2 separate regions of the Homo sapiens genome follow, and region 1 is linked to region 2. The links come from fine-mapping of genetic effects on gene expression. A gene starts in region 2. The other region holds a variant in brackets. All regions are shown on one strand. Distances are from middle to middle.

What was found. PIP is the estimated chance that this variant, and not a neighbour inherited with it, causes the effect.
Region 1: its variant is the best candidate, but not a certain one, in a credible set for the expression of MKNK1 in Th1/17 cells (Schmiedel 2018, PIP 0.84).

What each region holds. Positions count from the first base shown.
Region 1 is chr1:45,934,885-45,939,141 of GRCh38, forward strand. All of the region lies in intron 4 of MAST2 (microtubule associated serine/threonine kinase 2), which reads left to right. Among named protein-coding and RNA genes, the nearest start is that of MAST2, 130 kb to the left of the region's middle. The variant G/A (reference allele first, on the strand shown) is at 2,485.
Region 2 is chr1:46,602,548-46,606,804 of GRCh38, forward strand. MKNK1 (MAPK interacting serine/threonine kinase 1) reads right to left here and starts at 1,721. Exons shown (of 13, transcript NM_001135553.4): 1 at 1,638-1,721. RefSeq lists enhancers at 1,035-1,535, 1,303-1,352 and a silencer at 1,683-1,902.

The DNA.
Region 1 (4,257 bases), 670 kb before region 2:
AGAACGACTTATTTTCCTTTGGGCATATTTCCAATGATGGGGTTGCTGGGTTGAAAGGTAATTCTACTTTTAGTTCTTTGAGAAATCTCCAAACTGCTTTCCACAGAGGCTGAACTAATTTACAATTCCACCAATAATGTACAAGAATTTCCTTTTGTCTGCAGTCTCGCCAGCATCCATTATTTTTTGGCTTTTTATTAATAACCATTCTGGTTAGTGTAAAATGGTATCTCCTTGTGGTTTTGATTTGCATTTCTCAGATGATTAGCGATGTGGAGCATGTTGTCGTGTTTGTTGGCTGCTTGTGTGTCTTCTGAGGAGTGTCTGTTCATGTCTTTTGCCTATTTTTTAATGGGGTTATTTGTTTTTTGCTTGTTCAGTTAAGGTTTTTTGTAGATTCTGGATATTAGACCTTTGTCAGATGTATATTTTGCAAATATTTTCTCCCATTCTCTAGGTTGTCTGTTTACTCTGTTGATAATTTATTTTGCTGTGCAGAAGCTCTTTAGTCTAATTAGGTCCCATTTGTCAATTTTTGTTTCTGTTGCAATTGCTTTTGGTGTCTTCATCATGAAGTCTTCCAGGGCCTATGTCCAGAGTGGTATATTTTAGGGTTTCTACTAGGGTTGTTATAGTTTTAGGTTTTACCTGTAAGCCTTTGATCATCTTGAGTTGATTTTTGTATATGGTGAAAGGAAGGGGTCTAGTTTCAACATTCTGCATACGGCTAGCCAGTTATCCCAGCACCATTTATTGAATAGGGATTCCTTTTTGCATTGCTTTTGTCCACTTTGTCAAAGATCAGAAGGTTGTAGATGTGTGGCTTTGTTTCTGGATTCTCTAACCTTTTCTATTGGTCTGTTTGTCTGGTTTTGTACCAGTACTATGCTGTTTTGGTTACTGTAGCCTTGTGGTATAGTTTGAAATTAGGTAGTATAATGCCTCTGGAATTGTTCTTTTTGCTTCTGCTTCAGATTGCCTTGGCTATTTGGGCTCTTTTTTGGTCCCATATGATTTTTAGAATAGTTTTCTCTAACTCTGTGAAAAACGTCGTTGGTAGTTTGAGAGGAATAACATTGAATCTGTAAATTGCTTTGGGCTGTATGGCCATTTTAACAATATTAATTCTTCCTATCTGTGAGCATGGCATAGTTTCCCATTTGTTTGTGTCATTTCTGACTTCTTTCAGCAGTGTTTTTTAATTCTTGTTGTAGAGATCTTTCACCTCCCTCTTTAGCCATATTCTTAGGTATTTTATTCGTTATGTGGTTATTGTCATTGGGATTTCATTCTGGATTTGACCCTCAGCTTGGACGTCATTGGAGTGTAGAATCACTACTGATTTTTGTATGTTGATTTTGTATCCTGAAACTTTGCTGAAGTTTATCAGATCTAGGAACCTTTGGGCAGAGGCTGTGGGGTTTTCTAGGTATATAGAATGGTAATTGTCTGTGAAGAGAGAGAGTTTGCCTTTTGTTTCTTTCTCTTGCCTAATTGCTCTGGCTAGGACTTCCTATGTGGAATAGGAGTGGTGAGAGTGGGCATTCTTGTTTTGTTCCAGTTCTCAAGGGGACCGTGTTTTTTGCCCAGCATGATGTTACCTGCAGGTTTGTCATAGACGGCTCTTATTATTTTGAGGTATGTTCCTTTGATGCTTAGTTTGTTGAGGTACTTGATTGTCTGATCATTTTTTCCTCTGTGTAACTAATCTCCTTTTGTAACCACCAGCCTTCTGTGTGTATGCCCTTCTCACTTCACTGGGTCTCCAATACCCCATGAAAGACTGGCACCACTGTTCTCTTCAAGCAGACAACTTCCTTATCCCCATCAGTCTCTGACATCCCAGGCCAGGTACCTCAACCCCAACCCAGCCACATGGCCACCATCATCATCATCATCTTGTGGCCTCTAGACTGAATTATTCAGGAAAGAAGGAGAGGAAGGAGGATTCTAAAGCCCCCTAAGTACCTCAGATTCAGTCTCAGGGGCCTGCACATTTTGAAACATCTGACTTGAGTTTTTTTAAGTTTCTTTATTTTTTAGAGATGAGTCCTCTCTTTGTTGTCCAGGCTGGCCTCAAACTCCTAGGCTCAAGCAGTCCTTCCACCTGGCCTCCTGAGTAGCTGGATCTAAAGGCATTATACCACCATGCCTGGGCTTTTTTTTTTTTTTCTCCAGTCACTTTTGTTTTTATTTATTCTAATATTATTTGTTTGTTTATTTATTTTCTTTCTAGAAATGAGATCTCACTACGTTGCCCAGGGTGATCCTAAACCCCTGGGCTCAAGTGATCCTTCCACTTCAGCCTCCTGAGTAGCTGAGACTAAAGGCATGCACCACCATGGGCAGCTTTTTTTTTTAATTACAGTCACTTTTATTTTCATTTTAAAATTTTATTTATTTACTTGCTTGTTCATTACTTTTTTTTTCTAGAAATGGGATCTCTCTGTTGCTCAGGCTGATCTCAAACTCCTGGGCCCAAGC[G/A]ATCCTCCCACCTCAGCTTCCCAAGTAGCAAGGACTACAGGAGTGTGCCACCATGCCTGGCTGAGACAAAATTTACAAAGTATAAAATATGCCCATTGTGGTTGGGTACGGTGGCTTACGCCTGTAATCCTAGCACTTTGGGAGGCCGAGGCAGGTGGATCACCTCAGGTCAGGGGTTCGAGACCAGCCTGGCCAACGTGGTGAAGCCCCGTCTCTACTAAAAATACAAAAAAATTAGCCGGGTGTAGTGTCGCGTGCCTGTAATCCCAGCTACTTGGGAGGCTGAGTCAGGAAAATCACTTGAACCCGGGAGGTGGAGGTTGCAGTGAGCCGAGATCACACCACTGTACTCCAGCCTGGGAGACAGAGTGAAACTCCATCTCAAAAAAAAAAAAAAAAAAAAAAAAAAAAAAATTACCCATTGTAAGCAATTCAACGTAAGCGATTCAATGGTTTTTTACTAAATTTAATTGCCTATTGTAATCTCTTCAGTGTAAGGGATTCAATGGTTTTTACTAAATTTATATAATTATGTATTGTCACCATAATCCAAATTTAGAACACTTCTGTCACTCAGAAAGTTTACTTGTACCCACCTGTAGTTAATCCTACTCTTCTAATTCCTAGCTCTAAGCAATAACTCATCTGCTTTTTGGTTCTGTATTATGTGCTGCTAAATGTAGTTTTTTGTTTCTGGTTTCTTTCACTTAACATAATGTTTTTGAACTTTATACATGTAGCATATTCATTCCTTTCTATTGTTGAATAATGTTTTATTATTGGATAGACCATATTTTGTTAGTCCATTCACCAGTTGATGGACATTTATATTGTTTGCAGTTTGGGAGTATCACATTAATGGTGCTGTGTACATTTCCATGCATATCTTTGTGTGGACATATGTTTTTATTTCTTTTGGGAGTCAGAGAATTGTGTTGTATGGTAAGTTTATGTTTACTTTTCTTTTTTCTTGGAGATGGAGTCTCACTCTGTCATCCAGGTTGGAGTGTGGTGGTGTGATCATGGCTCATTGCAGCCTCAATCTCCTGGGCTCAGGGAATCCTCCTGCCTCAGCCTCCCAAGTGACTGGGACCACAGGTGCACACCACCATACCCAGCTAATTATTATTTTTTTATTTGTAGAGATGAGGTCTCACCATGTTGCCTACACTGGTCTTGAACTCCTGGGCTCAAGTGATTCTCCTGTCTTGGCCTCCCAAAGTGCCAAGATTACAGGTGTCAGCCACTGCGCCCAAACTATGTTTACCTTTTTAAAAAACACCAAACTGTTTTCTGCAGTGGACTGCATCATTTCACATTCACAGAGTTTATTTTTTAACATTCTCACCAGCACTAATTACTCTCTCTTCTTGATTTTAACCATTCTAGTGGTGTGTAGTATATCACTGTGGTTTTAATTTACATTTCCCTAATGGGTAATGATCTGAGCATCTTATCTCATTGTTAGCCATTTGTATATCTTTTTTGGTGGAATGTCTGATCAAATATTTTTGTTCATTTAAAAAATCTGTTCGTTTTTTTTTTAAATATTGAGCCTTGAGTTCTTTGTATGTTCTAGATACAAGCCCTTTATTAGCTATATGATTTGCAATTATTTTCTCCCTGTCTATGGTGGTTCTTTCCATGTATTTGGATGGTGTCGTTTGAAATGCAAAAATTGATAATTTTTTATTTTTTATTGATCATGCTTTTGGTATCTAAGAACTTACTTGCCTAACCCAAGCTGTTTTTTTTTTCCATTTTCTTCCAGAA
Region 2 (4,257 bases):
AAACTCTACATCCAGCTTGTCCAACCCGCGGCCCTGGATGGCTCTGAATGTGGTCCAACACAAATTCATAAACGTTCTTAAAACACTGAGATTTTTTTGCAATTTTTTTAAAGCTCATCAGCTATTGTTAATGTTAGTGTATTTTATGTGTGGCCCAAGATGGTTCTTCTTCTTCCAATGTGGCCCAGGGAAGCCAAAAGATTGGACACCACTGCTCTATATAGTAGGCAATGATGCCCACCAAGGTTTCCGAGTAGTGTCTCAGGAAGAGCACAAGGGCACCCATGAAGAGGATGCAAAAGGAACTAAGTAATTCAATTACTCTGGGACCACATTACAGGAGACCACATGCACTTTCTAAGCACGTGCTGGGCTCTGACAGCTCCTGTTCACAGAGCTTCCCTCTCCCATGGCTTCGCTTCATGCAATCTGAGTTGCCATCCCCCACAACTGTCAACATCTGCAAAATACCAGAGTAACAGGACTCCTAACCAACTCTCTGGATTACAGAGAGAGAAGTGTTGAGGTGGGAGCAGATGGGCAGAGGGGGCACCAAAGCCTCTAGCTGGCTCAGTTCCATATAAAACCCAACCCTGGATTTCCTCTTCACATCACTTCCAGCCCAGCCCTCTAATGAAGGGCTGAAGCTAAGGAGAGTGGGCTGAAAGCACCTGGCTGATGGGTGGTGATCCAGTGAGACATTACACCTACTGTCCAGCATGTGCCTGGCGCATGGGCAGTGGTGCCCTTCCCATTCTGCAGGGTCAGTTCCATCTGTAAATCCCACTGAGGCTTCAAGGCCCAGGTCACAACAACTCTTCTCTCAGAGCCTTTCTAAAGTACCCCAATCCAAAATGACCAAGCTCCTAGAAATCACAGCTACCATGTATTCAGCACCCATTACATGACAGGCGCCATACTAGGTGACTTCCATATAATCCTATTCACCCTTCACAATGACCCTATTATGGCCATTTCCTAGGGAAGAAAGTGAAGCTCTGGGAGGGGAAGCAGACTTGCCCCAGGACACACAGCTAAGAGGTGGAAGAGATGAGATCTAAACCCAGGACTCCCTGACCCTGAAGTTGAGCACTTCTAACAACACTTCATTCCTGTGAGCCTGCCTGCCTCTGATCTGCCACTGTCAGGGAGCTTGGAGCTCTCTAGAAGACAGGGTGCACCTGACACTCTTATTACCTTTCCCTGTGGACAGCCATCCACACAGGCAGGAGCCTTTAAATACTGAAAATAAATGAAAACAATTAACTTAAAAATAACGCAGTACACAGATTTCACAAATTCCTCACGTGAAAAACTATTCATGATACTGGACTGCCTGAGCCCTGCGCCCAGCCATAGCCTCGGTCCTGATCCCTGGGAGAGACTGAGTCTCAAACGGGCCACAGAGTAAGCGCCATCTCGGACACCGGCCACGCCCCGACCCCAGGCACAGAGGTCGCAGACAGCTCGGGACAGTCCTGAAAAGCGTCCCCTTAGGCTGTCCCTCCGCAGCTGAATCGCGTCGTGACCTCGGGCAGCCGTGAAGGCCCTGACTGCCCCCTTCCGGGCACACGAGCTCACTCACAGACCCCGGCCCCATTTAGCTCGGAGGAATACCTCGCAGGTCTCGCTTTTACCTTCGCTGGCTCCCGCCGGGGAGCGGTCGCGCGCACCCCTACCTGCAGATCGCTCCTCCGAGAACGCGGAAGAGGCGGTGCTAGATCCAGGGGGTGGGCCCGATCAGAGAGGAGGGTGAGGGGGCGGAGCTGCGCCTGCGCCCTGATGGCTACCCAGGGCCGCCTGAGGGCAGGGGGCTCGAGCTGAGCGAACTGCGCAGGCGTGACAGGGAAGAGGCGGGGAGAGGGGAGATTGCTGGCAAGCGGGTGGGGCTTAGCTCCTCCGGCGCTTTCTTTTCCGAATGGAGGGTGGAGAAGCCCGGGAAGGTAGGAGGCCGGGCGCGACAGGTGTAATTAACATGTACTGAGAGCTTCTGCAGGCCAGGAAGGAATTTTAAAATGCCTTTTATATGTGGGGAAATGCTGCTAGTCTTTTCTAAAACGGGGGCCAATTCTGTACAATTTCTTTAAAAGTCTGAGTGCCTAGAATTTCACCATAAGAGTTTCTCCTTGAGTACAACATTATCCCCAGTATTTCAAAATTTTTAAAACTTTTAAAAGTTCATTTCTTGGGGAAAAACAACTGTAAATAGGTTAATGCCTCAACCAGTCTCCCCACATCCCCTTCCCAAGTCTGCAGCTGCGATGAGAAAGGATGAGAGTGTGGACTGGGATTTAATTCAGGCGCTGACTCCGAGTGATGGAGGTGAACATCCCTTCCCTGCCTGTCTCAGGATTATCGTGAGGATTTGGTAAGCCAAGCTAGTTAAAGAGCCCCAGGGACTTGCTTCCCATCATCCACCTGACAAACATTTGTTCCCTGTCTTGTCGGGGCTGTCTTTTCATCTGTATGATGGAAGGAGATTGGGAATATTAGTGAACATTCAGGACTTTGCTAGATTTCCCAATCTGGGTGAAGGCCGGAGAGGCGGAAGATCAAGCTTCTGTGTTCATTCCCTTCTGGAATCCTGCGGTCCAACCTGAGGGCCCCGATGTATCCTGACTTCTCCCACTCATTACCTTCCGTGGAGGCCGATCCAAGCTTCAAGTCTTCAGAGGCCCTGCTGGCCTGTTCCCTTCCCTGTTGCCTGTGGCAATAGCCCAAGAGATTCAGGACCTATGTTCCAGGTTCTCAAAGTTGCTATGTCCCTCACATGGCAATCAAATTCAGTTAACATCTTTGAGGGCTCTGGGGGTGCTCAGAGGAAGGAGGGCTCCCCCAAAGCAGGTGGAGCTCTAGTCATGACTGTGGCTTATTTCACCACATATTCCACAGCTTGCTGTGGGGTAGGGAGGAGAGGCAACAGGAAACCTCAGAGGCTGCAGTGTTTATGGGAGCCGAGGGTGATGCGGCATCCTTTACTCAATAGGTGGATGCTCTGCCCCAGGCTGGAGAGGATGGCTTACTACCTAGGTCCCTGCTCCAAATATTGTTTTGGAATTTTTTTTCTTTTTTTTTTTCTGAGACAAGGTCTCACTGTGTTCCCCAGGCTGGAGTGCAGTGGCACCAGCTTTGCTCACTGCAACCTCTGCTTGGGCTCAAGTGATCCTCCTGCTTCAGCCTCCTGAGTAGCTGGGATTACAGGCATGCACTACCATGACTGGCTAATTTTTGAATTTTTTTAGAGGCAGGGTTTTGCCATGTTGCCCAGGCTGGTCTCGAACTCCTGAGCTCAATGATCCTCCCACCTTGGCCTCCCAAAGTGCTGGGATTACAGGGAAGAGCCACTATGCCCAGCTTTGTTATGGACCTTGAGCCAACAGGAAAATAAAGCCCAGCCTGACTTCTCAACCAAGCTGCCACTCTACCTCCCAGGACCCTTTGTTACTAGGTTTTGCCCCATGGGAGTGTGCTCTTTTATCTGCATCATTGAGGCCCTATCTCTTTCTTTTCCCCTTCTCTTCCTTTCTGTCTATTCTTCTTTAAGCATCCCTCTGTGAATCTCTCAAAGCAATTTTGTGTCAGCTTCCTAATGTATTTACAGATATTCTCATGTAAGGTGCAGGTCTTGGGTCACACAGTTCTAAGATAAATCTACTCTCACTGCCATGGTCATATTTCAAAATGACCATGAACCCAAAGCATGGGACTTGTAACAGTCTGAGCTGTCCAATGACAGAGGAGGTAGTGAGCGATCTGTTATAGGAGGTGTGCAAATAGCACCCTTTTAGAATGCTGGGATTGGGCCTCCTGTGGTGAGCCAGAGGAAGAGGCAGCAGAATGGAGGGCCTTCCAGATTCTAGAGGAGTGACTAAAGGCAGGGATATTGGGGGCTGGAAGGGAAGCAAGGCAGCTGGCCAAAGACACACTTGATTCAACAAGCTATTATATGTCAAGCACTTAGAAGTGTACCTGACACATAATGAACATTAGCTGTTATGATGACTGTGAATGATTCATAGACTATATAATGAAGGAGCTGAGATCAATCAGTCCTTCACTCCCATCACTGATAACAAAATAGATGAAGGGTTGGGGTCTAGAGGGGGAATGGGCTTGCAATGGAACTTCAGGAGCTGGGCTGGGGCTACAACCTATGCCTTTGCCTCCCAGGAGAGCCTCTGCACAAAGCCAGGCTGGCTCCTTTGCAGGAAGAGGGAAGAGCTCTAGATGGGCCTTTGTTGACTCTTAAGAACCAAG